Regions from separate parts of the Homo sapiens genome. Here regions 2, 3 and 4 are each linked to region 1. Evidence: fine-mapped expression QTL. A gene starts in region 1. Each other region holds a variant in brackets. All regions are shown on one strand. Distances are between the middles of the regions.

Evidence for each region. PIP is the estimated chance that this variant, and not a neighbour inherited with it, causes the effect. A credible set is the group of variants that fine-mapping cannot tell apart.
Region 2: its variant is the best candidate, but not a certain one, in a credible set for the expression of SORL1 in whole blood (TOPMed, PIP 0.57).
Region 3: its variant is the best candidate, but not a certain one, in a credible set for the expression of SORL1 in monocytes after R848 (Quach 2016, PIP 0.64).
Region 4: its variant is the best candidate, but not a certain one, in a credible set for the expression of SORL1 in monocytes after Pam3CSK4 (Quach 2016, PIP 0.66).

What each region holds. Positions count from the first base shown.
Region 1 is chr11:121,448,992-121,457,095 of GRCh38, forward strand. It overlaps SORL1 (sortilin related receptor 1), which reads left to right and starts at 3,323. Exons shown (of 48, transcript NM_003105.6): 1 at 3,323-3,625. The coding sequence starts at 3,341. SORL1-AS1 (SORL1 antisense RNA 1) reads right to left here and starts at 3,976. Exons shown (of 3, transcript NR_183636.1): 1 at 3,684-3,976; 2 at 705-908. RefSeq lists enhancers at 2,280-2,339, 3,730-3,919, 3,930-3,979, 4,020-4,089, 4,110-4,159 and silencers at 3,210-3,259, 3,390-3,439, 5,284-5,333.
Region 2 is chr11:121,611,920-121,620,023 of GRCh38, forward strand. It overlaps SORL1 (sortilin related receptor 1), which reads left to right. Exons shown (of 48, transcript NM_003105.6): 40 at 817-913; 41 at 2,952-3,136; 42 at 6,855-6,974; 43 at 7,834-7,998. Among named protein-coding and RNA genes, the nearest start is that of SORL1-AS1, 160 kb to the left of the region's middle. RefSeq lists a silencer at 2,601-2,895. The variant A/G (reference allele first, on the strand shown) is at 4,154.
Region 3 is chr11:121,569,020-121,577,123 of GRCh38, forward strand. It overlaps SORL1 (sortilin related receptor 1), which reads left to right. Exons shown (of 48, transcript NM_003105.6): 23 at 1,138-1,251; 24 at 5,222-5,344. Among named protein-coding and RNA genes, the nearest start is that of SORL1-AS1, 120 kb to the left of the region's middle. RefSeq lists enhancers at 935-984, 1,095-1,264, 1,725-2,226, 2,227-2,726 and a silencer at 7,776-7,855. The variant G/A (reference allele first, on the strand shown) is at 4,509.
Region 4 is chr11:121,493,676-121,501,779 of GRCh38, forward strand. SORL1 (sortilin related receptor 1) reads left to right here. Exons shown (of 48, transcript NM_003105.6): 6 at 3,194-3,374. Among named protein-coding and RNA genes, the nearest start is that of SORL1-AS1, 45 kb to the left of the region's middle. RefSeq lists an enhancer at 4,464-4,964. The variant G/A (reference allele first, on the strand shown) is at 3,243.

The DNA of each region.
Region 1 (8,104 bases):
AATTAGGCTTTGGGGAGTTTTTTCCTCTTCGTGGCTGTCCTTGCTGCTATTTTAAACATGACTCCACCTGGATAAAAATGTAGGACACTGTGACCTCTGTGTGTTTGTCCTCTACCTCCATCTCCAGTGGCCTAAGATGGGCAGTAGGACAGAGGAGGGCAGTTTAAAGTCTGACAACAGGCTTAAGACTGTTTTATACACAGCTGTGAGTCTATCATTACATTTCCGTGCATGTTGATTTTCGTCATGATGCTGGGCAGCATCCGAGCAAGGCCATGCAAGATGGGACAGAGGGGGATATGGTACTGTCTTCCATCCTGCACCCCAACTTTGATGTTACTTCAGAGGGATAGAGGAAGTGGTAGCTTGTTTACAACCCAGAGCTGGTTTTGAAGCTGAGAGGAACACCTCACTCATATTGCACGATTCAGCTCTAACTCCTGTCCTGGGTGACCTTGCCTGTGGCTGCTCCTATCTCACAACCCAGTGGGGGTCCTGAAGGTTTGGGAGTGGTCAGGGCTGAAAGGTGTCTTTTCATTTAACTTATGAAGAAATCGTAAGAGACAAGATGATCAAGACAAAAAATTACATAATAATTTGGTTGCAAAGCCAGGACTAGAATCTATGTTTCTAATGCCACCTGCATGCACTATTTCTCTCTGGAGGCCTTCACACAAATTTGCACAGCTATTTTATATACTTACCTCATCTGATACTCTCAGCAGTCCTGTGAGATTGGTAGGGATTAAGATCTCTATTTTACAGATGAGAAAACTGAAGCTCTGAGGAGGTTTGGCCAAGTCCCCACAGCTAGAAAGTCAACCTTCTGACTCAGAATTCAGCGTGTCTTCCACTGCGTTCTGTAGTTGTGCAGCAGGCACAGTCTTGGGGGGTTGCTGATTATCTACCTGAGAATGGTTTGGAATGTAGATAATGATTAGATAGGAGGGCTTGCAAGGAGTTAATTAACCATGTTTGAATATTCTTACCAATTCTCTAGCATTCAAGTTGCAAATCAACATCAAAATGAGCAAGTAGCTGGCCCTGCCCTACTAGTCCTTCTGTGCAAGGGGCCATCTGAACCTTAAGCCAGCAGTTTGTGTGGGCAAACAGATGCCCATCTTCAAATCCACACTTAGGAGACTCCTGTCTCTGTTTTCTGCTGGGACTCTGACACTTGCTCTTGCAGAGAAGGTTCTCATTAAATATATGTTGGAAAAACCCCAATAATTGAATCATCTACAGGATGTTCTCACTTTAGCCATATTCCCTTCATTTTCCTTTGAGGGCTAAATGGGAGTAGAGATATCTTTGCTGCTGGTCCTGAGAGACCATGGGGTTGTCCATTCCTGGTAAGGTGATGCTGACCAGACAGAGCTGATCTAGATGAGGGGTGGGAGGTGACAGTGGTTCAGTGGCTTTCTTGGAGGATGCATGATTGTTTGAATTATTATTTTTAATTGACATATATAAGTATATAATAAATATATATGTTATATATATGAGTTAGAGCTGAATTGCACAATATGAGCAAGGCGTTCCTCTCAGCTTCAAAACCAGCTCTGGGTTGTAAACAAGCTACCACTTCCTCAATCCCTCTGAAATAACATCAAAGTTGGGGTGCAGGATGAAGGCACCCCAATAATACCACACTGGGGAAAGTGTGGTATTTTGATACCTGTATACAATGTATAATGAACAAAGCAGGGTGGTTAACATAGAGAATGCATGATTTGCTTGGTGGGGAGAACTGGATGGTTCTGTAATTATGTTGAGATGGACAGAAAGACATCATCTGACTTGGGGAGAAAATCGGGTGTGGGAGGAGGTGGGAGAGTGCAGAACCTGAGGCAGAGGTCCCCAGCAAGTCTGGCATGGGGTAGGGTAGGGTGGTTGAATACTGGCTTCAGGGAGATGAGGCAAGCTGGCCTGACTCTGGCAGGTTGTCAGTGGTAGTCCTAGGTAGAGGAGGGGGCTTTGCTAAGCTACCTGAAAAGTACTAGAGTGGGCCGGGGTAGGAATCGGGCTACCGTGGCTTGTCGGAGATGAGGAATGTTTTTAGAAAATTGAACTGACCATCCCTTCCTTCCCCTGAACAGCAGCTTGTATGCAACTATAAAGGTAGTCTCCCTTTCAGCCCTGCTTGCTGTGTCTTTATTCTTATCAAAAACCAGGATCTGAGTTCAGAGGGCAGTGAAACATAAAATGAAATAGGAAAGGTTGCAGTAGTACATAGACTTTGGCTGCTCCCACTAACCTGCAAAAAAAATATTTTCCTTGGGCGTACCTTAGCAGTTCCATGGCAGAAGTTTTATCTCCTGTGGTTCAGAGAGTTTGGCTCGTCAAGCTGAATGTAGGGTTAAAGTGTGTCCTCCCTCCTCTGTGGGTGTTTGCCTAGCTCCTGGCTGTGGGTTGAAGGGACTGGTAAATATGTCTATTTTACTGCTGAGGCAGGGTGGCTCAGTGCTTGGTCACCTTGGAGGGATCATAAGCAAGCCGCCGCTGGGGCCCTGTGCCACGCACAGGTATTCATGCGTGCGTGCAAGCACACCCTGTATAGCTGTGTAATAATTGTCCAGGTGTGGTGCATTCTTTGTCAGATGTACCCTTGTTTTTACTGCCTCTGTGCAGGATGTTTATTTGCTGTGCTTCAGGCTGGGGCACGTAGCTTGATCAAGGGTAGTTTTTGCTGTGGCCCCTGCAAATACGTTGTGGTGCCCAGAGTAGATGAAAAACTGTGAGTTTCCCAATAGAGCGGGTTCATCTGGACTCTTGTTGGTTGCGTTCTAGGAGCTAATTCTGTGGCTCTGGACTCTTCCCTGGAGGTGGGGATGAGGCCGGGGCCGGGGGGAGGTGGTCTTGTGGCGCTACTGCGGGCTGTGCACTCAGGAAAGTGGCCACGGTTTAGGACGACCTCGACACGACCCTGTATAGGACGCAACTAACTCCAGAGAAAACGAGCGAGCCCCATGCAACTCTTCATTCCTGCAGGGAGAACAAGGAGGTGTGCCCGCCAGGGAAGGGACGCACCCCCACCGGCGCTCGCTGCCTTAACTTCCCCATCCCCGCGCCAGGGAGGGGCCGGAGTCGCCGCCGAGGCCGCCGAGCGCAGAAAGTGCGCGAAAGGGACGCGCTGCGAGCCTCACACGTGACGGCGCCGCGCCGAACCGAGCGGGACCTGGCGGCAGCGGCGGCGGGCGCAGCGGGGCGGCCCGGAGCGGCGCGGGCGGCCTGGAGCCCCGGGAGCGGCGCGCGCGGTCCCGGCCCAGCGGCTCTCCTGGCCTCGCGCTGCACATTCTCTCCTGGCGGCGGCGCCACCTGCAGTAGCGTTCGCCCGAACATGGCGACACGGAGCAGCAGGAGGGAGTCGCGACTCCCGTTCCTATTCACCCTGGTCGCACTGCTGCCGCCCGGAGCTCTCTGCGAAGTCTGGACGCAGAGGCTGCACGGCGGCAGCGCGCCCTTGCCCCAGGACCGGGGCTTCCTCGTGGTGCAGGGCGACCCGCGCGAGCTGCGGCTGTGGGCGCGCGGGGATGCCAGGGGGGCGAGCCGCGCGGACGAGAAGCCGCTCCGGAGGAAACGGAGCGCTGCCCTGCAGCCCGAGCCCATCAAGGTGTACGGACAGGTGAGCAGTTTTGCAACCCGCCTCCCTCCAGTTTTTTCCTCTCCCTGCACTTCCTCACCCCCGCATCCATCCGTTGCAGTCGCCTCCTAGGTGCAGGCACCACTGGGGACTTCCCGGCTTGCATTTGTTTTTTTCCTTCACGAGTACAACCGTCAGCACTTGAATCGCATTGATCTTTCCTTCTTCCTGTCGATTTAGTAAACGTATTCCAGGTAACTCGCCGGGTGCAGTGCGTATTACCCCAGGGTGTGTGCAGAGAGATGTAGTTTCCGGCAGGTATAGGAGGGGTGCAGCTTCATTTTACATCTGGATAAAAAACGGGCTTTCTTTAGTGTATCATCAGTTGGCAGTGGAGGCGAGCACCCTGCAGTTGCGGTACACTTACACAGAACAGCACGAGGTGGGGGTTTCCACACTTAGCATTATTAGCACAATAAAAGTGGGCAAACCTGAAAGCTTGTCGACTATCTCTGTACAGTCAGACAAGAGGTGTGTGTATGTGTGTGCGTGTGTAAAGGCTGAATTTTTAATTTTTAATTTTTGGCGAGCGTGTGAGATGCTCTCCATTCCTTCTTCCCCACCCTTCAAGATGCTGACTCTCCCACCCCCGTCAAGATAACTTTATTTTGGAGAGGAATACCCCTCATGGCACTTGGAGATTTGAAAGGACTGCAGGAAATTTGGTGGGCATTATTATTCTATAAGTGATTTATTTCTACCCAGGCAATAGGTTTATTAGATCATAAGTAACGTGAATTTCACTTTTATGGTCAGACTTACTGCGAGGAATTGCAGATGGAGTTTGTAGGTTAGGATCAGCACTGGCAAAATTAATTTGACCGTGTTATTGCCTCATGAGACTCCCAGTCCTGCAGTTAAGATTGACATCAGCAAAAGTATAAGGTCGGTGGGGGAGAAAAAGTAGGACCAGAGGAGGGGGTAAATACACTTGTTTTCTAGAGTCAAATTGTTCCTTTTGAAGTAGAAATTATTAATAAAAGATTACCCTGAGTTCTGCCTTTTCTCACTAATTTCACTTTAGCCATTTCTTCAGGAAATACAGAGTTAAATGTTCAACCCTTGGATCCAGGACGAACCTTGTAAACATATCACCCTATTGTGTCATTTTGTTGGTGAAGAAACTGAAGCGTGGAATGGTGAAGTGACTAGTCCAAGGTCATACCGGGAAGGTGGCCTGCTCTCTAGTTTTTGTCTGCATTGTCTCAGTGACCTTTGCTTGACTGCAGTCACCCTGTCTTTATGCAATGCTGCTGAAATACCTCCTTTCTAAAATAAAATAGATCTGGTATAAAGGGGGAAAGGATGGTGGTGACTGGGTGGGAGCGTTGGATTTCCCTCCACTATTGGTCCCTGGGCAAGAATGTGTGCCCCAGGGCATGTAACTAATGGTGGCCACAGGCTGCAGGAACCTGCATGCTCAGTTCCTCTTGGGCCCAGATCCTTGTCCCCCTGTCCCCACCCCATATGACAAATATGTGTATGAACAAAAAGAAGTCATCAAGGTCCTTGCTCTTAACAGCGACACCAGCATGGGGCTGATGGAGGGTGGGAGAAGGAGGAGGAGTGGCCCACTTCTTCATTGGGCCTCCGCAGTCAGCCCAGCTCTGCTGTGCTCTTGAATCAGCATTCTGGGAACTGGGAGTTGGGGGCTGGTGGGAGACAATCCCTCCCAGTGCTCAGGTCCCCTGAAGCTATAGTTTAGGTTGAGGAAAAAGTTTTCTGGTTTCAAAAATATGTGTACATGTGCCATTTCTTTCTTGGGTTTGGTTTATGAAAAGCTCCAGGGGATGTGGGGCAGGTTGGACATGAACTCTGTTCTCACTGGGAGTGACTCCCAAACCCTGGGCTTTTGAGTTTCTGGGCCAGCCAGATTGAGTTTGGTTCAGCTGAAGGATGGAGAACTAGCAGTCAAACTCATAATGAGGAATTCCTAACCGGAGGGTGAGGGTACAAGGGTGAGATTTTTCTTCTCTGTGGCTGCCTTCCTATGCCATTGTTGCCTCTTGCTCTGAGGTTAATAAGAAGTGGAATTAATTTGAATCTGTAAGGATTTGAGTCAGATAAAAGGAAGAACTTCCCTGTACTGGGCTTTCTGCCACAAGTTCTATCTGGTGCAGACCCTTCAGAATGCAAGCACAGGTTGGTGACTGAAGGGGTTTGAGGTGCCCCTCTTGGAACTCTGGAGTAACTAACATCTATTTGGAATGATCTTTCTAGCAAGGATGACCATTGCCTCTGTGTTTCCCTGGGGCAGACCTGGTTTCTAAGTTGTCTCTGGTGGTTATGAATAGCACCCCCTTCACTCTCAAAAGTGTCAAGATGTGACAATAAATTATATGGTCCTACTTTTAGCCTTAAGCCAAGTTCCACTTTGTAATCACGACTTTCCCCTTCAACGTTTAAACCTAAGGAATGGTGATGTTTTCCAACAGTACTGCTTGACTTGAGTGTGGTTCTATGGAGGTGCAGTGAGCTGGGGAATAAAATTTCATTCCTGCTTTTAGGAAATTTACAATTTAAGGAGGAGAGCAAGCAGATGCAGATACAGGCATGTCAATGTACCAGGATGGGAACCAGGAAACATGGTCACAAGAAACCAGCCACAACTCTACAATGGTGTGATAACGGGCTGTGTGACATGCAGCGCATGGGAGATGGAGAGATAAGGGGTGGTGGGCTCAGACACTGTCCAGCTTCTTGCCCTCTGACCTTTGAGTGAGGTTAAGAGGACACTGGCAGCACAGGTTAGGGCTGGAAGCAGAAGCTGCCTGAAGGAAGCAGGCCTAGAGGCGATGTTAAGGCCACCACCTTCAGGGAGAAGAGAAGGGAAGGCTTTCTAGGGGAATACTTGCATCTGAGAAAGAGCCCTGTGCTGGAGTCAATGTCGGTCCTTTTTCCTCTGCTTCGCTAATGTCTTGGGTAAACTAGGCTTGGTTATTTTGACCATTTTCCTCCTCAGTTTCTCTAAGGTGGGGAGACCGGCTTCTGCCATGATTACTTAAAGGCACATTTATGATACTGAAATGTGATTGTAGGGGTGAAAATAATTTGCTGGCAGATATCAGGACTTTTCTGCCCATGTTCAAGGCTCACGCCTGTAATCCCAGCACTGTGGGAGGCCGAGGCGGGTGGATCACTTGAGGTCAGGAGTTCGAAACCAGCCTGGTCCACATGGGGAAACCCCGTCTCTACTAAAACTACAAAAATTCACTGGGCGTGGTGGCAGATGCCTGTAGTCCTGGCTACTCAAGAGGCTGAGGCAGGAGAATCGCTTGAACCCCGGAGGCGGAGGTTGCAGTGAGCCGAGATCGCGCCATTGCACTCCAGCCTGGGGGACAGAGTGAGACTCCATCTAAAAAAAAAAAAAAAAAAGGCAAAGTTTAGAAGTTGAGCCCCTTCTTAAAGGCCAGGTCCAAGAAGAGGGATTCCCTAATTCATGCCACACTGAATTTCCTCCTGATTTCTCATAAGCTCTGTCTGTCTGCGCCATCATACCTGCTTTTTCCTCTGCCTGAAATGATCTTCCCCAACTCTTGTCCTTGCCTGGGAAGCTCTTATTCCATTCTTTAACATCCAAGGAATACCTCTTGGTATTCTCAGGCTATGGTGGGAAGAGTTTCTTCTGAGCTTGGAGGCAGCACTTACTGCCTTGTGTTAGAATTGCTCAACTGTCTCATCTTCCTGTTTGCTCCTTGAGGGCATGGATCAAGTTCTCTTGTGTTTCCCTGGCACTTGGGAGGCCCTTAATGAGTATTTGTGGACCAGCCACACACCTGGAAGAAGAGAGGCCCAGAGGGTAGGAAGCACATTCACATTATATAAAATGTATTTGTAAGGAGGAATACAGTGAACCCACACATGGATAGTGAAAATGAGATGGCTCATTCGGTAGTGAGGATGCAAGCGGCATGGCCTACAGATAGTGGAGCCCTGATTTGCCTGTGCTATATGGGAGTTATTTTCAATGAAGAGCTTGGATTCTATTTTACAGAATCCTCCCTTTTAGGGCTATCATTCTGGTTTATGCTAATGGTATTGTTTTGGGGAAAAATCCTTTGGAATAAAGCACAAAGCCTAACAGGATTTACAGGTTTATTTTCCTTCCAACAAGCTCTCTCTTCATAATTCCTACATTTTAGAAGCCAGGGAGTATTCAGTGTCCTGATTTGAGACTGAAAATAAAGTGTCTATTACAGCACAAGGCCCTGGGACAAAAGGCCTCCTTTGGGGGTGGAATACCGTTCAGCTTTAGATCTCTTTTGAGTAGATTCTTCCATGATACACTTGCTTGGGAAAGAATTGGCTGGTTGATTCTGAAGTTAGGATGTTTGACCTGTGTGCTTCCAGAATAAGATGAGAAGGCAAAGAATGTGCTGCTTCAGGTTGGCTTTTATGTAGCTGAAGAGTTGCTCGGGGCCTTGGGTTGGCTCAATAAGGGACGTGACCTTGAAAAGCTCT
Region 2 (8,104 bases), 160 kb after region 1:
CACCTGAGGTCGGGAGTTCGAGACCAGCCTGGCCAACATGGTGAAACCCCGTCTCTACTAAAAATACAAAAATTAGCCAGGTGTGGTGGTGCATGCCTGTAATCCCAGCTACTTGGAGGCTGGGGCAGGAGAATCGCTTGAACCTGGGACGCAGAGGCTACAGTGAGTCAAGATCATGCCACTGCAGTCCAGCCTGGGCAACAGAGTGAGACTCTGTCTCAAAAAAAAGAAAAAAAGAAAAGAAAGAAAAAAGAAGTGGGCTTATATGCTTCTTGTCTTGTAGTCTTTGATCTTGAAAATATTTTTGTTCGTTGTCCCATATTTAACGATCTTCAGATCAAATCTTTTTATGAGCTCAGGACTTGGAAAAGGTAGTCTTTCCTGATGGGTGGATGTATTTTCTGTAGTTAGACAATGAGATCTAACCAGCCTGTTTTGTATGGATTGTCTTCTTGGCCTTGACTGCAAGGATTTATCCTTAATTTCCATGGCCTAATTATCTTTCCAGTGTTTCCTCTTTCTACCTTTATTAATTGGTTCTCGTCCTTTTATTCTTCATTCACTTTTTTGTTTCATTGAATCTATAAATTAAATATGGTCTCGTTTGTTTTTAGAAGTAGGTGGAGTACAACTAAATATTAGCTAATGGTAGCACAAGTAGAACCTGTTTAAAATTTTTAAAAAACAACCTGTTCACTGTAAGAATGAGATACCCAAGGAAAGAACAGGAAAGAGGTGTATTTTTAATCCTGCCTTTTGTATTTAGTGTGCCCCATGACTAGCTGTTCATCTAACATGCTTCTTGGTTCTCGGCAGGTGAATGGCTATGTGGTGAACCTTTTCTGGGCATTTGACACCCACAAGCAAGAGAGGAGAACTTTGAACTTCCGAGGAAGCATATTGTCACACAAAGGTAACACTTTGGTGCTGGTCAGTGTGTGTGCAGGAAGGGGTAAGGCTGGACCAATGCTTTCCCGCTGTAGAGCTTGACTGGGGGTGCCAGGGAAGGGGAGGTATTCTCTGGAAGCTGTTCTGTGTTGACAGGTTCTTGTGCATTGAGGATCCTATAAGTGTGCTGCTGATTCTAGGCAGAGGGATTCACTCAGTGGCCCCTCGAGCCCTCCTCCAACCTCATGACCCTTAGTGGAAGTTGGGGGCCATAAGGAGGAAAATTGGACAGAGGCAAGACTAATTCTCTGCAGATGAGTTTTGATTTCCAAAAGAAAGAGTTCTTAGATATAGACAGTTACCTGTCTGTCCTTTCTAGTCTGGTTCACTCTCCCGTTGCTAATGAGAGACAGCAGAAGGCCTTATGCATAACTGGTGTTCAGTAAATACATGTTGACTGGAGAAATGGACAACAAACTAAGGGAGGAGTGGTCCAGTCCCTGTTACGTATGTACCAGCAGCAAGTCTCAGCTAAAATTCCTCTATCTAAGCACGTGCTAAAGGATGGATTTTAATTTATTTCTAAGTGGCGAAAGCTGCCTGTAACTGTTGAGAATGACTTGGGAGCTTCTTCCTGTCTCCTCCTTCTAGGCTGTGAAGCACTTTCAGTCATGTTTTTATTGAGTCCTTGTCATAGCCTTATAAAGTAGAGACTACAAATGTTCTATTGTTACTTTTTTTTTTTAACTGAAAGTCTACAAGGTGCCCGAGGAGGCTGTTATTTTGACTTTTGCACATTGAGCACCTACCATGTACAGGCATTTACACAGGCATTCTACGCATATTATTTACATAACCCCAAGTATAATTCCGTGAGATATGCCCGCTTTACAGAGGCAAAACTGAAGTTGAAAGAATAAGTCATACGCTCAGACGGTGGCAGAGCCAGGATTGGAACCCACATCTTTCTAACTCCACAGCCTATGATCTCATTGCCTTAGTGTTGCCCCAGTAGAAACTGGCAGAGTCAGGAGCAGAAGCCTTAACTAGCTGTTGTTTGAAATCTATTAGGGCTAGTGCGATGCTAGGCATTATGCCAAGCACTTCCTAAGCATTTTCTTTTTTTCTCCCTGCCAGCCAGCAGCTGCTGTAAGTGCTGTTATTTTTTTCTCCATCTTACAAACAAGGAAATAGAGAGTTTAAATACTTTACCCAAGGTTATACAACCACAAAGTATAGAGTCAGGCCTTAAACCCCAGTCCTTCTGATTCCAAAGGCTATCTTGTTAGCGTAACCTCCCCCTTCTCACTTTTCTTTTTCTTAGTTTTAATAGCATTTCCTCTGATCAGAAAGGGGATACATATTTGTTTCAGAAAATTGAGAGAACAAAAAGAGTGTAATGAAAATTAAAATTGCCTATAATTTCACTTTTACATTTCAGATATCTTCTAATATATTTTTCCATGGATTGATCTCTTTATATCTTTTTTCTAAAATCAGAATAATGCCATAGGTAGTATTGTATCCTGCCCTTTTCACTTCACATAAAATTGTGAGAATTTTCCAGTGTCATCAAATATTTTTGAAACAACCTTTAGTGCCTGCACAGTAGTTGATGGAATGCACATTATTTAATTATTATCCTGTTACTAGACAATCAAATTACATTCAGTTTTTTCCTGCTGTAACACTGTGATGGGGATCCTTGTTAAACACACTTTTGAGTCTTTCTCTGACTTCATGGGATAACTGGATTGAAGGGTATGATTTCCAAGGTTCTTGTTATACAAGGCCAAATGGCTTCCAGGAGCGTTGTACCAACTCCTATCCGCGGATGGGCAGCTTTAAAGAAATTACCCAGTGCTTGTGCAGTGTGTTACGTACCGTCATCATCAGTACATAAACGTTGAATGAATTTGTCATCTAATGACAGTCCTACAGCACATGGGACTCATTTAAGTCAAGAGATTACTATTTTTTTTTAAAAAAGTGCATGTACCAAGACACGTTCTTGACTAACACCCCCAACTTCCTCCTGGAATCTCCTTTTCCTGTTTTCACAGTTGGCAATCTGACAGCTCATACATCCTATGAGATTTCTGCCTGGGCCAAGACTGACTTGGGGGATAGCCCTCTGGCATTTGAGCATGTTATGACCAGAGGGGTTCGCCCACCTGCACCTAGCCTCAAGGCCAAAGCCATCAACCAGACTGCAGTGGAATGTACCTGGACCGGCCCCCGGAATGTGGTGAGTCAGCCAGAATGACCATCACAAAGTGAGTGTGGACTGTCCCCTAATGCTACGCCACCACACAACTCCAGGGCTTTTCTCTCTTTTGCAAATGTTCCGGTGCCCCTGCTGCTCTTGGATATAGGCCTTTCTTTTTCCTTTGTTTTCATACGTGCATTATGATTCACTATGATCAGATCTGTGCTCCTTTTTGAGTCTACTGTTTTACTTTCCACTCCTCCCCAGTGTGTCCCCTTTGCTTTTAGATCAACCGTCCCAAGGCTCTTGGCACATTCGTCCCCCTCTTGCCTCTGTACTTGGCTTATGCCCTTTCTCCTCCTTGGTGTCCTTCCCTCCTCTTGCTATGCAAGAAAATCCTCCCTTCTATAGTTGATCTCTCTCCCTATGAACTCCTAATATATTTATAGTTGGTTCCATATAGCATGATATTTCATTGAATACAGCTTTACCCTATTTGATAATTTTTGTCTGTTACTCTTACCTTCCTAACTAGTTTGTAAGTTCCTTGAAGGGAAGGATTGTTTTCTGGATTTTCTCAATGGAAAAGCATACAGAAGTAAATTTATAATAAGGAATTAGTAAATCCTTAGTGATGAGCGGAGGAACTAGCCTAGGTCTGGTCTTCTGAGGATATCTTCAGCGTGCATTTGTCACAGGGCTGAGTCATAGGGAAATAACCAAAGTTTGCAAGTAGCTGTCTGTAAAATCAGTGAAGAAGAAGGAAGAAGTAAGATTTACTGAGCAGCCAGTAAGTGCCAGGAACAATATAAAATCCGATAAACCCCTGTTCCCCCTTATTCCTTTCATTGGTTCTGTGGGTAAATATTCCCATTTTGCCAGCAAGGAAACTAAGGCTCAGTGAGGCGAAGTAACTTGCCAGAGTTAAAGCTCTCACAAGCAGTAGACTGAGTTTCAGCTCAGGTCTGGCTAATTTAACAGCCTCTGCTCTTTTGTGTGTCCCAGCACCTGACGCTGAGGCAGGGACAGTGATGAGAAGCCCTGACCTATCCCCGG[A/G]GCTCTCTTTTACCTGGAAGTTGAGTCTACTCATAAAGAACCCTTTCTTTCCATTTATATACCTGGCAGCACATGACCGCCTCATCACCCCCAACTATCTCTCCAGAGTAGGGCAATTGCACAGAACACTGAAGCCTGACTTGATTTAGGGTCTCCAATTGTGCATGAAGTTGGAGGAGGCTTCCTGCACCTCATCTCAGCTCATGCACTGGTCACACTAAAGGTGGCTTTCAGAGGTGAGAGCGCAAATGAGATCACCTGTAGGAAGCTCTCTGCTTCTGCCCCTCTTTAGTTCATTGAGGACCCTGGCAGCTCTCATGATTTTCCTGTCTACTGTGAGAAGTGCCATTGTCACTGTGCATGTGGGGAACCTCTCATCCCTTGGCTCCCGTGGCTCTGTGGACCCCTTTCCTCTCCAGAGACACCCCATCCCTGGCGGTCACCAGCCTTGTCCTCGGTGATGTCATCCTCCCTCTGTACTCTAAGCCCCGACTTGGCCTACTCCCATCTCATGCTTTGCAGCTCCACCTGCATTTGCTTTGGGACCCCTTTGAGTCCCTCAGCGCTTCTCTTTCCTACATCCTCCCAGGCGATCACCCCCTTCGGGGCTTCCCTTCCTGTTTCTCTGTCTGTGTTCTCCCATCTGTCTGTCCTTTCTCATCTGTCAACAAAAAGAGTCAAACTCTGTAAAATATATGAAAAGATTTATTCTGAGCCAAATAGGAGTGACCATGGCCCGTGACACAGCCCTCAGGAGGTCCTGAGAACATGTGCCCAAGGTGGCCGGGATGCAGCTTGGTTTTATACATTTTAGGGAGGCATGAGACATCCATCAAATACATTTAGGAAATACACTGGTTTGGTCCAGAAAGGCAGGACAACTCAAAGTGGGCATGGGGAAGCAGGGGTTTCCAGGCTATAGGGAAATTTAAACATTTTCTGGTTGTCAATTGGTTGAGTTTGTCTAAAGACCTGAGATTGACGGAAAGGAGATGTTCAGGTTAAGATAAAAGATTGTGGAGACCAAGGTTCTTTTGACGTCTTTTAGTGGCTGCCTTTAGGGGAAATAGATGACAGATGTTTCCTATCCAGATCTTTAAAAGGTGCAAGACTTTTAGCTAATGTCTTTAGGATTGGGAGGGCCTGGAAGAAAAAGATCTAGCTATGTTAATAGAGATTCTTTACAGATGCGAAGGTTCCCCCACAAAGGACAGCTTTTCAGGGCCATTTCAAGATATGACAAAGAAACATGTTTTAGGGTAAAATATTTTGATTTTCTTCCTTGTCTCATAATGTTATGCCAGAGTCAACTTGGAAAGTAAGTCACGATATATAGGATTAAATAAAACCCATCTGATGAGAATTTATGGTTTGTAGGACATGACTCCCCAGACCCCTTAGATAGGGATTTGGGCAAGATTTAAAAAATCAGAGCTTAGTCCTCACAGCTGCTGAGCAGTGCTGGAGAAAGTCACCCTGTTGCCTGGGACTTGGAAATCCCTTTGTGGATCCCCGCTCAGTTCCTGCTCATCCCATGGATCCTGCAGCTCCTACAGTCCTCGTCAAGCCCATGTCTTACATGTGCACATAACTCTTGGAGAAAATGCTCTTTGATTGTGCCTTACAAAGAAAGCTTCCTCAGCTCCCACCCTCCAGTTATAAACTCCCTCGGCTTCCACTTTCTGCTGTAAACTTCATCCCATTCCCACTTCCCTGCTTGAAACTCCCTCAGTTTCCAACGTTTACCAGTTAGGACTAAGCAGGGATGCATAGAGCAGAGGAAGTGACAGTAACAGTGGCTTCGAACAGTTTATTTCCTCTTGTAATTAAAACAAGTTTAGAGTTGAGCAGTGCAGGGCTTCTGTCGTGGCAGCACGATTTGATTGGGCACCTGAGCCCTGTCATCTCCAGCCTGTGGCATGTGTCTTCAAGCTCACCTCATGGTACAAGAGGCCTCCTGGGCCTGCAGTCATGATCTGTATTCCAGGCGACCAGAGGGCAGGAAGAAGGGCTCCTCCCTCTGTTGTAATGAGCCCTCCTAAAGCTTTTCCTGCGACACTTCTGCATCTCAATGGCTGGAAGCTCTTTGTCTAGCCTCTTCTAGCTTAGGGAGGTTCGCAGTTTAGACTTTTTCCAGGCAGCAATTCTCAATCAGAACCAGAGTTCTGAGGAAGAAAGGGAGGATGGGTACCTGTTGGACAGCCAGCCGTGTCTGCTCTCCTTCCCTCCCTCCACATACTTCCTGGGGTGTTCGCATCCACTGTGCAAGCTCCCATGGCTTTCCTTCCCACTCAGCACATCCCCTTGGAGCCCACGTCTGTGCTGCCAATGGTAGAATGACACCCCCTCTTTAATAACCCCCCGTTCCCTGGCTCATCATGTGGGTTTCTGGTGTAGCATCTAACACTCTATGTTTGCCACTTGTTATTTATAATTATGTATGTTTTTCTTCTCTGCCCGCCTCTCCTCCAGAAGGAGCGCTTTGAGGACAGAGACCACATCATATTTATTTTTGTAGCTCTACATACAGTGCCTGGCCCAAGTGCCTTCTCTGTAAATGCTGTAAATGTAATAAATGTTGAATGAAGACTTCTCTGTGAGCTCTTTTGAAGCAGTTCCAGGGTCTTAAATTGGGGATTTCAAGGAAATGAGATCATCGGCCCATGAGCTGATGTCCTCTTCCATTCTCTGCTTTTACCAGGTTTATGGTATTTTCTATGCCACGTCCTTTCTTGACCTCTATCGCAACCCGAAGAGCTTGACTACTTCACTCCACAACAAGACGGTCATTGTCAGTAAGGATGAGCAGTATTTGTTTCTGGTAAGTTTCCCATACCGTTTCAGTTTTTTAAGGGATGTCTTAAGTCCTGGGCTCTGGTCTCAACCCAGGACCTGGGGAGCTTGCATACCTGGACTCCAGGATTGATGTGTGTGACGAGAGGCAACTTCCTCTTCTTCATAAGCATCATCAGGTTCTTGCTTGAAATACAGAATGAACGGCCACTTTCACCAACTGCAGCTCCGTTATGGAGGACTGATAACTTGGCAGATGATCACAAGTATAGATAAATCAAAAATTTTTATCAGGTTCCACTTCTAGGAATTTAGCCTACATACTTTTATGTGTGTGCCAAGATATATGGAGAAAGATACATGGTACGTTATTATTCTTATGATAGCAAAAGATGTGAAGCAACTTAAATGTCTATGAAGAGAGGACTGGTTAAACATATCATGGTTTATTCATGCAATGGAATGCAGGACAGCCGTTCATAAGAAGTATGACAACTCTAAATGTACTGATATGGAAAAATCTCTACGCTATATTATTATATAAAAGAAGCCAAGAGCATAATATGTGTGCCATTTTCTCAGTTGTATAAAAAATATTTGAGGAAGATAGGCTTCATATACACGTGCATATATGTGTAAGGATACACGTACATACATATCCTTCCTTATATATGCATAGGGGATTTCTGGAAGGAAGCACAAAAACTCTTACCAGTGGTACCTCTTGGAAAATGATTTGGGGTAGGTGGGAAATTATTTTATATTTTATGGTTTTTTGTACTAACTGAATTTTAATTGTTGTCATTATTTTGTTGAAAAAATACTTTAATAAAGATTGCATAAGGCCATGATGTATTTTTTTTCCTACGTGTGTGCTTGGGCTTCAGGTCCGTGTAGTGGTACCCTACCAGGGGCCATCCTCTGACTACGTTGTAGTGAAGATGATCCCGGACAGCAGGCTTCCACCCCGTCACCTGCATGTGGTTCATACGGGCAAAACCTCCGTGGTCATCAAGTGGGAATCACCGTATGACTCTCCTGACCAGGACTTGGTGAGTGGGTTGGGCTTCCAGGCCTCTTTGTTTATTCCTGGCCTGGTTAGGGTGGGGTGGGATGGAAGGGGATCCTCTAATGGGGCAAGAAACACAGGCCTGGTTT
Region 3 (8,104 bases), 120 kb after region 1:
AAGATTTTATGGACATTTATTAGTTCCCCAAATTAATACTTTTATAATTTCTTATGCCTGTCTTTACTGCAGTCTCTGAACATAAATTGTGAAGATTTCACGGACACTTATCACTTCCCCAATCAATACCCTTGTGATTTCCTATGCCTGTCTTTACTTTAATCTCTTAATCCCGTCATCTTCGTAAGCTGAGGAGGATGTATGTCGCCTCAGGACCCTGTGATGATTGCATTAACTGCACAAATTGTAGAGCATGTGTGTTTGAACAATATGAAATCTGGGCACCTTGAAAAAAGAACAGGATAACAGCAATGTTCAGGGAACAAGACAGATAACCTTAAACTCTGACTGCCGGTGAGCCGGGCGGAACAGAGCCACATTTCTCTTCTTTCAAAAGGAAATGGGAGAAATATCGCTGAATTCTTTTTCCCAGCAAGGAACATCCCTGAGAAAGAGAATGCGTCCCTGAGGGTAGGCTTCTAAAATGGCCGCTTCGAGGGGCGGCCATCTTTTATGGTCGAAGCTGTAGGGATGAAATAAACCCCAGTCTCCTGTAGTGCTCCTAGGCTTATTAGGATGAGGAAATTCCTGCCTAATAAATTTTGGTCAGACTGGTTGTCTGCTCTCAAACTCTGTCTCCTGATAAGATGTTATCAGTGACAATGCGTGCCCAAAACTTCATTAGCAATTTTAATTTCGCCCCGTCCTGTGGTCCTGTGATCTTGCCCTGCCTCCATTTGCCTTGTGATATTCTATTACCTTGTGAAGCACATGATCTCTGTGACCCACACCTTATTCGTACACTCCCTCCCCTTTTGAAATCACTAATAAAAACTTGGTGGTTTTACGGCTCAGGGGGCATCACGGAACCTGCCGACATGTGATGTCTCCCCAGACACCCAGCTTTAAAATTTCTCTCTTTTTTTACGCTGTCCCTTTATTTCTCAGACCGGCCGACACTTAGGGAAAATAGAAAAGAACCTATGTGAAATATCGGGGGTGAATTTCACCCGATATCTGGCTGAATTTCCCCCGATAGTTACTAAAGGGAGGGAAACTCAAAAGAGAAAGACCTGTGGTCCAGCAGTAAGAATAATATTGGTTTCATTTCCTCCCCTGCCGCACTCTGATGGGTAGAGAACACCTGTCTTCGCAACCAGTATCGCTGCAGCAACGGGAACTGTATCAACAGCATTTGGTGGTGTGACTTTGACAACGACTGTGGAGACATGAGCGATGAGAGAAACTGCCGTGAGTCTTCTGGATTGGACGTTAAGCACTTACCATTACTCAGAAGCCTGGTTGGCTCTTCCCAGGCTGAGGGCCTAAGGTCTAGGGCGAGGGCCACCCATGATTGGTGATGCCCATCTAAGTTGATGGGGCTTAGATGACAGAGAAAACATATTTCCATACACAGGTAGATATTAGATATATAGGATTAATATTATATACATAATATTTTTTTAACCACCCCAGAAGTACCACTCGTTACAAGAGATTTATAAATAAACGTCACATGGCTGAAACTGAATTGATTTGGCAATCTGGGCTCTAATCTTGGCTGTGGCTCTGTAATAAAGCTGGTGACTTGGGGCGAGTAAACAGGTGATATTCTTTGATTTGGAAATTCAATATTCAGCCTTTTTAGGGATGGGAAATGAGTATTTACTCCAGTTGGTTGATGTTGGCTACCTACCAGGCTCAAGAGAGATTGTTTTCATTGGTTAGTAATGCATAGCTTGGCCTACAGTGTGGGGCCATTGGTGTACATGCCATGTAAGTGTCATCTTTAGGCTGTATAATTTTTAAGATCTGACTTCTAAAGTATAAGACTGTGGTTAGCAGAAGTTAAAACCAAACAACCACAAATAACAGATAGTTTATTAACCATGAATTTTCACTATCTTTTCTTCACTTAATTTTTAATAGCTTCGACATTATCTTATAAGGAGATGATTTGCCCTTTTGTCAGTCATGCACTCACTCAACAAGCAGTTGCTATACACCCTGTGTTCCAGGCTCTGTGCTGGGCCTGCATATATATTGCCGATCAAGGCAGAAACGGAGTTCACAGTCTGAAGTAGGAGTCAGAAAAATAGGCAGTTACAGTAGAGTGACGGGCACTGCGATGCGGAAGTGTCATATGCATGTAGGATGGGCACCCAAAGCAAACTTGGGCAGGCCCTAGCAAAGAGCTCTGGAGAGTGTCTGGGGTGAACCAAGCAGAGGTGGAGGGAATCAATTCACAGGCAAGGGAGCAGCATGTGGGGAAGCTGGCATGGCCAGGAAACTGGTTTGAGTTATGGAGAATGGGCATGGGCACAGGGGCCAAGGTGAAGTTAGATGAGTGGGCAGCGCCCAGGACAGCAAGGGCTTTGTGGACTTTATCGGAGAAGCAGTTGGGAACCACTGATGTCATGTGATGAAAGTTCATCTTTGGAAGGATAAGTAGTGGGCAGAATGCGTTTGATGGAGAGAGACCAGAAGCAGGAACCAAGTCAGAGGCTTCTCTTTTATATATTTTACCTTTGGCAACCCAGGGGCTCATTTACCCATTTGTACTGTAAGAACAGATTAATGGGAAGCTCTAGATACTCATTTAGCCAGTCATCCGTGGGGCCTGTGCCCGGCTCCCCTGCCACTTCACCCAGAAAGCAACTTGTGAAATATCCAGCTCATTAAACACATCTGGGCCCTGCAATCCTATAGACTCCCCCTTTTGGCTGATAGAGGGTTATTTACAAAGCCTTTCCTTAATCGTTTTCCCTTGGATTCAGAGGGTGCCTTTCACACCGAGGGAGTAGAGCTTATTTGCTGAATGGCAGATTTGGGAAAGCACTAGCCTCTCTGTGTCTTTTCTGCAAAAAATAAGGCCTATAAAGCCTCCTTTATCAGAGTTGCAGGAAGGTGTGATATTTGTGGGGGAATAGCCAAAGCTCTTTAAAAACATTAATGCTTATTAACAGCATTGAAGCAGATAATGGAAAGGAGTTTATTACATATCTGGGTGGGATAGAAGATGCTTCTTAGAATTAACAAGTTACAAGGAAATTGCCCAGACATAATTAGGCACAGTGGAAGCAGGGAGATACAAACCAGATGACCTCATATCCAAGAGTGAGGGACACAGGTGGCAGAGCATTCCTCCTTGTGCCCTTGGGCTTGGTTTCTACTAAATGGACAAGCTGAATCTTGTATTGGCTCCGAGTTTTGAGAGGAATGAAGACCTGCATCTTTTGGGAGGCACCTGCTGCCTCCAATGGCTTCCTCCCACCCAGCCCCTGAGCTCTGTTGCAGACTGCACAGTTGTGCATGAAGGATGGAGCTGGCCCTGCCCTCCTCCCAGCTTGGCGTGAATGTCAGCTGGGATTCACTTTCCAGAGACCCCGAGACCTACTTTCTGCTCCGTCGTCTCCCTGTTTCACCTGGCTCAGGTCTACACATGTCAGATGGAGCTGAGGCGTGGAGAGGAGGAACCAGAAGGATTTAAAACTCAGAGACTGGGAGTCAAGAGAGAGGGGCTTATCTGTGCCTGCATGTGTGTCTCCCTCATCAAGGAGGTTGCGTGTGGAGGAGAGAGGTTCCCTGTTTCTAAGCAGGGCTGCAGGAGCTGGACCGCAGTGACTGAGTACTGCCATGTGGGGAGTTAAGTGAGGCACCCTGCCAGCTGCCAGGGAGCAGTGGAGGAGGGGGGACACCGGGATGCAGGAGGGTGTTGTCAGTGGGTTTCCCTCCCTCTTACACAGATTCCTCTAGCTGGGTGACTGTCAGGCACTCAGGGTTTTGACGCGAATCCCTGCAGTCTTGTCATTTTGCATTCATCCCCTGCCTCCCACCACGAGCTCAATTACAGAGAAGAAATGGAGCCTCAAATAAGAGCTGCCAGGATGTCTAACGGCAGCATTGCTATTTGGCATTTCGTGCACGACAACCCCTCCCCCGTGCCAGCATTCTGTTCTGCCACATTTTACCTCCTGGGTCAGCCTTTCACTCTCCTGAGAGCAGCCTGCCTTCCCCTCGCCTTTCCTGGAGGGTGTTTCACGGGGTGCCAGGGATTGTGCTTAAGCACAGGAAATATCTACTTAGGAGAGGAAGAAAAATCTAATTCTGTATCCATTCTAATGCCAGAAGGACATGAGGAATGATGAGGAAGAGAAGTGACATTTGTTTAGAGCCCATTATATTTACATCCTATTTAATAGGCTCTGGTTCCAAACTTGTTCCCTGGTTTATCTTCATAATAATGCTACCAAGTAAAGGCAGGTTAAGTAAGTTGTAGGTTGCAGACTCAATTCAAATCTAGTCTTTCTGGCTGGGCGTGGTGGCTCATGCCTGTAATCCTAGCACTTTGGGAGGCTGAGGCAGGCAGATCACTTGAGGCCAGGAGTTCAAGACCATCCTGGCCAACATGGCAAAACCCCATCTGTACTAAAAATACAAAAATTAACTGGGGCTGGTGGTGGGTGCCTGTAATCCCAGCTACTCAGGAGGCTGAGGCTGGAGAAATC[G/A]CTTGAACCTGGGAGGCGGAGGTTGCAGTGAGCCGAGATTGCGCCACTGCACTCCAGCCTGGGCAACAGAGCGAGACTCCATCTCAAAAAACAGAAAAACAAATCTAGTCTCTCTGACTGTGATCTCAAGCACTAGGACACATTATCTTACCCAGTTTTACTGTTGAGAAAACAGCCGTAGGGAGATTAAAATTAATTTCCCCAGGAAGAGGTAGAGCCACGATTTGGTACCCAGTCTTGACTGACTGCAGACAGAGCCTATGTTCCTACTGTAGAATTCTACCTCCATGCTGCCTTTACCATCTGTACAATGAAGTGCTAACTTCTTGTGTGAAATTGAGCTTCTCTAATCGTAGTTTCATAGATAAAGGTATTTCTGTCACTTATTTAGGAAGACACTTTTCGCGTCTGAAGGGATCTTAGGAGGTCACCTAGCCTGTCACTCTCTCTCGCCAACAGATGACAGTTTCTCACTTTTCCCCGTCCTGTTCCGATCTGGAAGCTGTCCACAGAAAGATATGCCCTTATCTCTCTTGGTTGTAAATTTCAAGCTCTCATGTAATTTATGTCTTCTGTAAGTCTAGGTTTAATTTCTGTTGCTACAATTAATACCTGCTTTCTTCTATTTTTTAATTGGTTTTCCAGTAGGATGTTTACATTTGTGGGAAATCAATTGTACCTAAGGAATATGTTGTCTTTCTATCCCATTTTAGCTACCACCATCTGTGACCTGGACACCCAGTTTCGTTGCCAGGAGTCTGGGACTTGTATCCCACTGTCCTATAAATGTGACCTTGAGGATGACTGTGGAGACAACAGTGATGAAAGTCATTGTGGTAAGGGGACATCACATCCTGAAACCCTGCTCTGGAGAGGGGGGTCATTGTGCTCCCTCACAGGGCTGTACTGGTATGTACTGGTTTTCTGATAGCCGTCTCAGGATTTATGATATTCTAGCTGAATGGCTTTCTCCATCCACATGGTGGGGTTGAGTCATTTCTCTGTCCATTCTTAAAGAGTTTGTTTGCTGCTTTTCACGAGGATTCAGTTCGCTGGAGACACTTGCGAACTGGGACCCTAGATTCCCATTAACTCTGGATGGGACCCTAGATTCCCATTAACTCTGGATCAAGTGTCTCCAGCAGAACTGAATCCTCATGATTCATGGTCAGAAAAGATGGAGCCTGGACTCAGCTCCTGTCACTTACTCTTAGATTAGCCTTTGTTTTCTAGTCTGAAAAATGGGGAAATGGACCCTGCTTTGCCTTGGAGAGATGCTATAAGGATGAAAGGTGATGGTAAGGAAGTAAATTTCTGAATGAATTCAGGGGGTTATTAACAGCTCTACAGGCTTGGCCCACATGTCTCAGTGGGTGTGAGATTAGCCTGCTGAAGACACAAATCTGCACCTCTGTGAACTGTTCTTTTTTTTTTAACCAATTTAATTCATTCAACTCTGTTATTATTAGAAGTTAGCAGATGGTATAGGCATTGAGTGAGCATCTGTTTTCTGAATGGACATTTTTATATTTAGAAAAACAGTGGGTTACAATTCCAAGGAATGATAGAGATTCTCTGGTCCAATCCTTTTAATTTCTACTTTCTAAAGTGACTGAGGTCTGTAGAGGTCAGGGGGCTTATTCAAGGTGACACAATTAGTTTGTGTCAGAATGGGGAACTGGAATCCATGTCTCCCATTTTCTAATCCTCCACTATTTCTGTTGCACAGTACCTCCTTGTCAGTTTCATGAGACCCATCTTAGTTAACAGTCCCTGGTCCCAGACTCATAGTTGCTGACCTCCGAAGGAGACATTATGCAATCAGCATGGTGTGCCAGATTGAGGCATGAGAGGGAAGTGAGAGTGGAGGTCAGACGCTGACCCAGACGTGGTGATGAGTTGGCGGGGCCCTACTGTGCCCTCTCTCCCTGTCCACGGGGGGCAGGTCCAGCCACGCTGTGCTTACGCACATGGACACAGCCTGCTTGATTATGAGCAGGTGGTTTGACTCACAGCAGCTGAAATAAGGGGAGCAAGGGCAGCTTGTAAATCATCTCAATGCAAGTTAACCAGCAGAGCAGAGCCTAGGCCATTTCCACACAGAAAATACCCCTAGCCTGGCTCTTGGAAGGTTTTTAAAAAATTCCCAGTTTTCCTTCTTCAAGTGCCTGAAAACATGTCCTTGGAATGTGCAACTATTTCCCCTTCATCCCTGCCATTTCCTTCCCAGCACTCTTAGAAGGTTGAAATGTGTAGCTAGTTTTGCCCTAGTAAGAAGGAAACTTCACGTGGTTCCCTCTTTCTGGTATCATTGAGCTCACGTACTGGGTACATGTTTGACTGTGAAGCAGTTTCAGCCCCCTGATCCTCTGTTCATGGCTCATTCTTACTAGTTTGTCCTGAATTCATCCCAGGGTCCCGGTTAGCCCCTTCCTCTGATGCAGGTCCTCTTCGTAAGTTTCCACACTCTTCCTCAAAAATATCTGATTTACTAGCTTTGCCATCAACAAGCCTCTTGGCGAGAATGACTGAGACGGCTGCCTTGGGCCCCACGCTTGGCTGCTCCTGTTTTCTGACGCTCTGTAAACTCCATGTGAAAGTTCTATGCCACAGTCTATTTGGGCTGTGATAACAAAATACTTAGTGTAGGTAATTTATAAACAATAGTATTTTGTTTCTCACAGTACTGGAGACTGGGAGGTCCAAGACTGAGGTGCCAGCAGACTTATTGTCTAGTGAGGGCCTGTTCCTCATAGATGGTACCTTCACTGCAGCGTCAGATGGCACCTCTGCTTCTGGAAGGACTGCAGGGAAATGCTTCTATCTGTACGCAAGCGTGGCAGAAGGAGTGAACAGCTCCCTCCCACCTCTTTCTTAAGGACACTAATCCTATTCATGAGGGCTCTGCCCCCATGACTTAATTACCTCACAGGGGTCCCATCTCTTAATAATATCACATTGGTGATTAAGTTTCAACATACAAATTTGAAGTTTCAACATATGAAGTATAAACATTTGAATTTTCCTAGCCTCCAGAACCGAGAGAAATAAATTGCTATTGTTTATAAGCTCAGCCTATAGCATTCTGTCTTCATGATCTCCCCAGGAGCTTTGAAGGCTATTGCCAGGGCAGCCTCCTTCCCCTTCTTGGTCAAGCTCTGCTGGTTGGTTCTTACCAGGCCCCCACCCTTCTAGAGACAGCGCATCCACCCGTGTCCCTGGAGCTCTGCCCACAGAAAGTCCCGAGTTATGTTTCCTCCGTTTTGGGAGCTCAGCACTGATTTTACTCTCTCTGACTGAGCATCTCACGGTGATCAGCTCATGCAGACCTCTCGGCACTCCTTTTCTCAAACCACAGGCTGTGTCTGTAGGAGTCCTCTGTTTCTTGAAAGTTCTACTTCCTGGCCTCCTCTATCACTGCTTCCTAACCTTCTTCCCATCATAGCAAGCATAGAAAATAATATATGTGGAGAGCACTGGGATGAATGGACAAGGATGCTGTTGTCAAGAGGCAAGCAGCTCTAAGGGTCTGAGGGTCTCAGAATCTCAGCCCACCTGTAACCCATTTGCAGCACACTGACTGGAAGCTGTTAAAT
Region 4 (8,104 bases), 45 kb after region 1:
TATTTCTATCTCCTAGTTTTTCATTTGTTTTTAGACTTTTACTTGTAATTTTAGTCCTCATTAAGTGTAATGGTCCCAGAAGATGTAGATACTGCCTTTGTTTCTTTTAGTTCTCCATGTAAAGTGAAATGTCTTTTAGTTGGTATTGCTTCCTTAGTAATAGAGGTAAAGATGGAGCTGGTATGTTGAGGAGCCTTACAGCTGACCATCATCAGACACCCATAGATTCTGTTTATGTTTCCACAGAGGGTAGCTGTTTCTGACCCTTTTGTTATTTTCCTTGAGCAAAAGTTGTGGGATCTTAGTGAAATTATAACCACAGTCTCATCCAAGGACACCCTCTGCTCAAGGAGAACCATTAGAACTTTCTTCTGCTTTATTTGAATTTTAAGGGGAAAAATTGTTCTTTTATCTGCTTAAGAAACTATAAATTAAGAGGGCAAACCAGCAGAATTACTAGATAAGGGAACATACAATTTAGAAATTTTAAGTTCTAAAATCATATTGTACCTTCTGCCTCTGTGTAGATATACAGATATCCTGGGAGAAAGGACTGGTTTATCTCATTGAAGCTAATGACATGTCGGTTAGGGGATTTTAGGCTATTTGTGGGATTTCTCCCCCTAGGTTTCCCCATAATAAGTGAAAGCGTAATCTAGTCTCTCAGAATAATGATATACATTTGTTCAACAATGCTTGGCGAGTTGGGAGCAGCAGGAGTGGGAAAGCTAAAAATTTACATGGTCCGGAGCTTGAGATTGGCAAGACAGAACAGTGGAAGACCTGGAGGGGGCTGAGGGGACTCAAAGATACCCTGTGGAGCATCATTGAGGGATTTCAGGTGAGGCCAGGTGAGGCTGGTGACTGCTCAGAGATAGAGCAAGGATTGGAATTTCTCAATGAGGACAAAGACAATAGAAAGTAGGTGTCAGTGAGCGTAAGACATTGGAAGTCTAAGTGATTGCAAAGTATGAGAACTTGTAGGTGGAGCAGCTTGCAGAAATGGGAGGTCCAAATATGGATTACGGAAGAAAATTGGGATGAAAGTCACAGTTCTTTCTATCTCTAGGTGTTGGCTGCTGCTTTTGGCTAGGAAGGAATAATAGAGGTGAGCTGGGTCTCAAAATAGCTCAATAAAGGTTCCTTCCTCTCTGCCGTTTTAAAAATACCAAGCAGCCTCATTTTAATTTGCATATCCTCTGGCTAGAGGAAGTACTTTAATCAGTACTTCTAATTGTGGAAAAGAAGAGAACATGCCACCACCCGCCCACACATGCACACAGAGGATCTGATAATGAAGAATAGTGTTCTCCCACACTAGGACCAAAGCTGCTGGTTTCTCCGTTGCCCTAAGAATCCAGATTGTAGGGCAAAACTCAAGTCTTGCTCCCATTGTAAAAAGAAGCTCTTTTTTCTTTGTTTTTTCAAGACAGGGTATTGCTCTGTTGCCCAGGCTGGAGTGCAGTGGCACAATCATGGCTCACCCAGCCTCAAACTTCCAGGCTTCAATCCACCCACCTCAGCCTCCTGAGTAGCTGGGGCTACAGGTGTACGCCAGCATACCTGGCTAATTTTTTTAAATTTATTTTTTGTAGAGGTGGAGTCTCACTATGTTGCCCAGGCTGGTCTTGAACTCTTGGGTTCAAATGGTCCCCCTCCCTACCCTGGCCTCAGCCTCCCAAAGTGTTGGGATTACAGGTGTGACCCACTACATCTGGCAAAAGAGGTTCTTGTTTTTCTGTTTCTTATTTTCCTTTTTGGGAGGGGTGGGGGGAATATGCTCTTGACAGTATATCTCTGAAGGAATTTGACACGATTACCTTCATTATTCTGAGAGCCATCATGCATATGGGATTGTATAAGGGCAGTTACCTAACTGAGGCCTTCTGCTTTTCCTTGAGTCATCACTCTGTATTCTCACTACAAGACTATCTTCCCGACTTTACCATTTATTTTTTCCATTTGCTGAATGGTTCCCATGGCCTTGGTGTTCTTGAGAATGTTAGGAGACCTGGAGCAGATAAGTTGTCCTCTGAGCTGCTGTGTGGGGATTCTTGGGGGATCACTGGCTCAGAAGTTCTTCTCCAAGGTAGTTTGGCCTGGTCATTCTATGTTTTCATTTTGGATTAGCTTCTTGAATTGCCCCACAGATCCAATGCAGAAAGTATCTCTTCAGCTAGGAATACTATAGGGTAAAATGAAATCTAAGACATGGCCTTCCGAGGCATCTATACTGTGTCTAGGAAGCTCAGACAAATACATAATGGTGAACAATAAAATACAGTGTCTAAGAGGCATTACTGCATAAAGGAATAAGACTGATTCTAAAAAATCACCCAACTAAAGGGGTTTTATACCTTTGTTTGGAGTTCAAACTCATGTAAAAGGCTTGGAATTGGATGCTGCAGAGGGATGTTATTGCTAGTGTTGGGAGAAGAGAGGACAGCACTGAGGAAGGCTTCCTGGAAGATGAAGACTTGAACTTGATGACAGAGGAGAGTAGGAATTGGATGGAGGGATCAGAGTGCGTGCAGAGGGCATCTCCTCACGAGAGTGTGGTGTTTGCAAAAGCACAGTGGGAGAAAGGTGCCCTCCCTTTCTGAAGGACATCAAGGAGATCAGTATGTTTGAGAAAGAGTTTGTGGAAGAGCCTCATGGGAGACGAAATGCACAGGCAGCTCCAGATTGCCTAGATCCATGACATTGGTAGGGGACAGGGCAGAGACAGGGCAGCGTCACTTGGAAGGATCAGGCTCAGAGGTTCATGGTGTGGTTTCTCCAGTAATGTTCTTCAGAGGATGTAGCACCTTGGGAAAACTCTCCTTCATTCCTCTGAGATTCATAACTTTAGACCAGAAACTTGCTTATAGCTTCAAGCAGTCCCTTGCTTATTAATTTTGAAACATTTTATCTTGTACTACTACTTTTTGCTCTTCCTAAGCAGGGCAGGGTTGCCTTGAGCTAAACCCAGGATGCTTTGAAAACAACATAAAACACCTTGCAAATGGCAATTTGTCCCCTCTATCCTGAGTCAAGGAGTAACCAAAGGGATATGTTTGAGGCACAGAGAGTATGATCTGTGGGTCACACCATGGTAGGCCTAAACTCTAGTTGATTATCCCATTGCAAAACTTCCATGCCTCTAGTAATTAAATGTGCAAATGATAACAACCTTTTTTTTTTTTTCTGCCAGGGGAATTGATCCCTATGACAAACCAAATACCATCTACATTGAACGACAT[G/A]AACCCTCTGGCTACTCCACTGTCTTCCGAAGTACAGATTTCTTCCAGTCCCGGGAAAACCAGGAAGTGATCCTTGAGGAAGTGAGAGATTTTCAGCTTCGGGACAAGTACATGTTTGCTACAAAGGTGGTGGTAAGTTGAATGTACTAAAGAATAAACTACTTTTGAGTTTCCTTTGTGAAGTTTGGCATTCTGTGATTAAACAGGTGAGTTTGCATACACAGGAATTGGAAGGATGTGCTTGGGACAGATTGACTGAAGGGATCTCAACATTGACAACATTGACGAACATTCCGAAAGGGCTTGGCAGGTGCTAGGAAGTCAGAGGAGTGGAGAGGCCTAGGACAAACACTCAAAGTGGCTCTAGGCTCTAGGAATTTGGTTGTTTCCTGGTAGCCAAGCATCCTTGACAAAGACGTATTTCTTTGAAATCCCAATGAAAAGAACAAAGAATGGAGAGGGGAGGGTGGCTCAGTGGCTTCTTTCCTTTAATCCCACTGCCTGATTTCCTTTAAACTTATGCTGATTTCTTTGAGATTTTTCAACACATGTCAATTTACATGGCTAATAGGATGTGTAGTCATTGGCTAGTGGGAGTTAATGCTCTAAGAAAAGCAGTAATTAAGCTTCCAGCTGTCAGTAAGTAGCTTAACTCTCAGCCTTTGGGAAAATCTTCCCCTTGATTTGATGTGTTGGAGCCAGATGCCGAAATGGTGGGCTTGCTCATTCAAAACCAGAGTTGATTACTTAACAGGACTTGTCTTGAAATTGTATTGAGTTCAGTCTTTATCACCCTGGTTGTAAAGGAAAAAACCAGGCCCAGTCAAGGGCAGGTGGGGCTCTTATTTCTGGGAGGCTACTAGCTTGCTTTCCTGATGGTGCCCTTCCCTTGTTGACTCAGGGTCTGTTGAAGGCCTTTGCTAACTGGGAGGTTACTCTGTTGTCTTTCACTGTTAACCTTAGAGACTGAAATCAGACGTAATCTTTTCCTTCAGATTCTCATTTACTTCTATAATTGGTAGCAGGCCAGGTGGAAGTAGGTCAACCTTCTTAGTAGGATTTTAGGGTCAAGAGAGGATCTCCCCAGCAGGAAAAGCAGGGAGTAAGGACAGAATGAGAAGAGAGATGTGGGTGGCTAAAGGCTAGAGGCATTTCCAGTTACATACCTTGCAAAATGTTCTGAAAAACCATTAGCCTATGGCAGTTTTTCTTGTCAGGCCATTTGCATTGACCCATAGACATTGGTTCAGTGCCTTCCTGCCTTGACTGTTTCTTTATCTTTCTCTTAAACACACATGCACAAATATGTACAGCAGCCCAGAAACATAAGCATCCTCGAATGGCTTTGGGCAGGGATGGGGTGATGGGAACACACAGATAAGAAATCAGGCCCAAGCACTGGTGCCTTGTGACATCAGTTGGACAGTCTTGAGTTTTCAGTATGGTCTAAAACCTTGTCTTCAGTTCTCCAGGGTTTATAGGCCTTTTCTGCCTTAATGCCTTGGGCCTGGAGTTATTGTGTGATTTTAATTCTGAACTCTAAAACACATTGACTGACTGCCTGGTTTGTCCTCCTTTTTGCTTGAACCAGGGCAGGATGGATAGCTGTTGTGCATTTCTCTTAACCGGGTTATTTCTAGGTGTCACGGTCGAGAGTTTAAGTTATATCCCAGCTGGGCCGGGCATGGTGGCTCATGCCTGTAATCCCAGCACTTTGGGAGTCTGAGGTGGGTGGATCACTTGAGGTCAGTAGTTTGAGACGAGCCTGGTCAACATGGTGAAACCCCGTCTCTACTAAAAATACAAAAATTAGTCTGGTGTGGTGGCACATGCTTGTAATCCCAGCTACTCGGAAGGCCGAGGCAGGAGAATTGCTTGAATTTGGGAGGTGGAGGTTGCAGTGAGCCAAAATCATGCCATTGCACTCCAATCTGAGCAACAGAGCAAGACTCTGTCTCAAAAAAAAAAAAAAGTTATATTCTAGCTGGAGCTTTCTGTGCCCTCCATTCTAGTCTAACAGCTATGTCTGTTCTCCAGATGTATCTGATTTACAGAGTGCCTGTGGTGAGTTTTTAATTAAACCTGGCCAGTGGTAAGATTAGGGGTCATGTTTGTTTTGATCTCACCGATACAGTACCCAGTGCCTTGCGCTATGTTTGATACGCAGCAGATGCGCAATAGAGTTGAATGAATGCCATGTTTGCCCACCTAATTTAAAAAGTAGTCAATTTTTAGAAATTTGGTGGGAGACGTATTAAATTTTTGGTACTTTTATAGGCAATTCTTAACTCTCTGTATGGCTTATTTATTTATATGCTGTTGGTGGCAAAATTGTAGTTATGAGCTGGCTCCTCCTTCTGCACATGGATGAGCCACCAGATTCCAGGGTCAGTGGTATTAGTGAGAGGATGTAGGTAAGATGAGTTAGGCCACCACTGAGAGGTGTTTCCCAAATTGTGGTCTTAGGAGTACCCACGTCAGCATCAGGCAAGGACAGTTGTTACAAGTGCAGATTGCAGGGCTCAAATGCACTTTTCCCCAGATCATCCCAAGGTTGTCTAACAATCACCAGTTTGAGAAACTCTGCCCTGAGCCTTCTACAGGCAGATGCTTCAAATGACAGAGTTGTACTACTGTCTAGGGAATATTTCTCAAGGGATGGATTGATGGGAAAAGAAACACAACTGGCTGTGGATAGCACACAAAATATGTGCTTTCCTCCTTTTTATTACATCAGACTGCTAAACGACAAGGATAAACAAAGTTGGCCTCGGTCAGATAATCCCCTCCCAGTAAGAGTGTTGAAACCTGCAAGTGTAACTTTTTATCTGGGGTCTGCCTAGCTCTAAGGCTGCCTGAGCTTGGGAAATTCCAGCTGGCTTTAGTGTTAAATGAATTCAAATCAAATTGGGAAAATCAAAGAACTGATTTTAAAGCTACAGAAAGCTGGTTTTGCATGATTAACTCTTTTGCTTCCTTCCAGCACCATGAATGATTACAGTCCTTTGCAAGCTACTGTTTCAGCCCCCTGGCTTCTGGACTGGAGCTGGTGTCCAGGTCTTCAGAACCTCCTGGTACCCTGTTGGCCTCGCTCTGGCTTTATAATGTGCTTTGTATTTTTTGCCCTTAAGTTGCCTTGTTTAATTTTTATTCCTTGCTTTTTGACATGAAGTTCACTTATTTGTCTTCATAGTGTACATCAAAATGATAGGGCCATTAAAGAAACAATGAGGTTCCTCTGTGATTTGTTAATTTGGTAATATACAACTGTTAGGCTCTTTCAGTAGATAACAGTAATTGCTGAAAAGCTTGAGGTGGGTCAGGGTTAGCTACTCCCCTACAACCTCACAACCTCATAACCTCACTACCAGATTAAGATTATCATGCAAGCCAGGCCCAGATATTTCTTGCACAAATGTGTATCAGTAAGCAAAGACATGATCTGTGGACTTGAAGTCTCTTCTGTGACCTTACAGATGATGCAGCCACCCACGCCTTGCATGCTGCAGACGCTGTGTTCTAGAGTGGATGCTAGGAAACTATGGCCCACCACCTGTTTTTGTAAATGAAGTTTTACTGGGACACAGCCATGCTCATTGCTTATTTGTGGTCTAAGGTTGCTTTCATGCCCAGTGGTAGAGTTGCATAGGTACCTATACAGAGGCAATATGGCTCCAAAAGCCTAAAATATCTATTATCTGGACCTTTACAGATAGTTGTCTGACTTCCTGTAGTTGCTGACTATGCTGATAGTTGTCTGTTACCCCTTCAGTTGGCATCAGGTAACTGGAATCGCAATGTCTTGACAGGTCCCAGGCATTATCCAGAAAAGTATAGGTTATGGGCCTCTCTAAATTGTTATGCCCTGTTAATGACAGGATGGTATCTTTAGAATATTATGCCCAATTCAAGTATTTTGATGTCACACCAGTCTCCCAAGTGAGGGTCCATGTGTATTTTCATGATTCTGACTAAGCAACCACGAATTTCACTATTGAAAACCAATTTTCAACCTTAAGCTAATTTGCTCTCTAATGTTGATCAGAGGTAACAGAACAGTTTAGTAACTGCTACAGGGTGTTGTGGGCTTCTAGATGAGAAATCAGCTGACAAAACTGTGTTGTGAATTATAGGATAACTGACCCAAACCAAACTACTTATAAATTATTTTAACTATGTTACTTAAATGTATAAGCACCCAATGCTTATAACTCTCATACGTGATCAATAAAACCCAGATATTTACAGATTAAAAATAAAACTATAACAATACATTTAAAATTAATATTTGTTACAACTGTGTTGAGATACAATTCACATTCTGCAAAATTTACCCTTTTTAAGTGTGCAATTTAGTGGTTTTTAGTTTATTCATAAGGTTATACAATGATCATCATTACCTAATTCCAAATATTTTTATCACCTCAGAAAGAAACCACATACCCATTACCATTACTTCCTTCTCCTCCCTGATGCTGGTAACCACTAACCTAGTATCTTTATGGCTTTTTCAATTTTGGGCAATTTGTGTAATGGAAATCATACAATTTGTGACTTTATTAGTCCATTTTCATACTGCTATGATGAAATGCCCGACACTGGGTTATTTATAAAGAAAAAGAGGTTTAATAGACTCACAGTTCCACATGGCTGGAGAGGCCTCACAATCAAGGCGGAAGGTGAAGGAGGAGCAAAGGCATGGCTTACGTGGCGGCAGGCAAGAGAGTGTGTGCAGGGGAACTGCCCTTTATAAAACCATCAGATTTTGTGAGACTTATTCATTATCATGAGAACAGCACAGGAAAACCCGCCCCCATGATTCAGTTACCTCCCACCAGGTCCCTCCCATGACATGTGGGGAT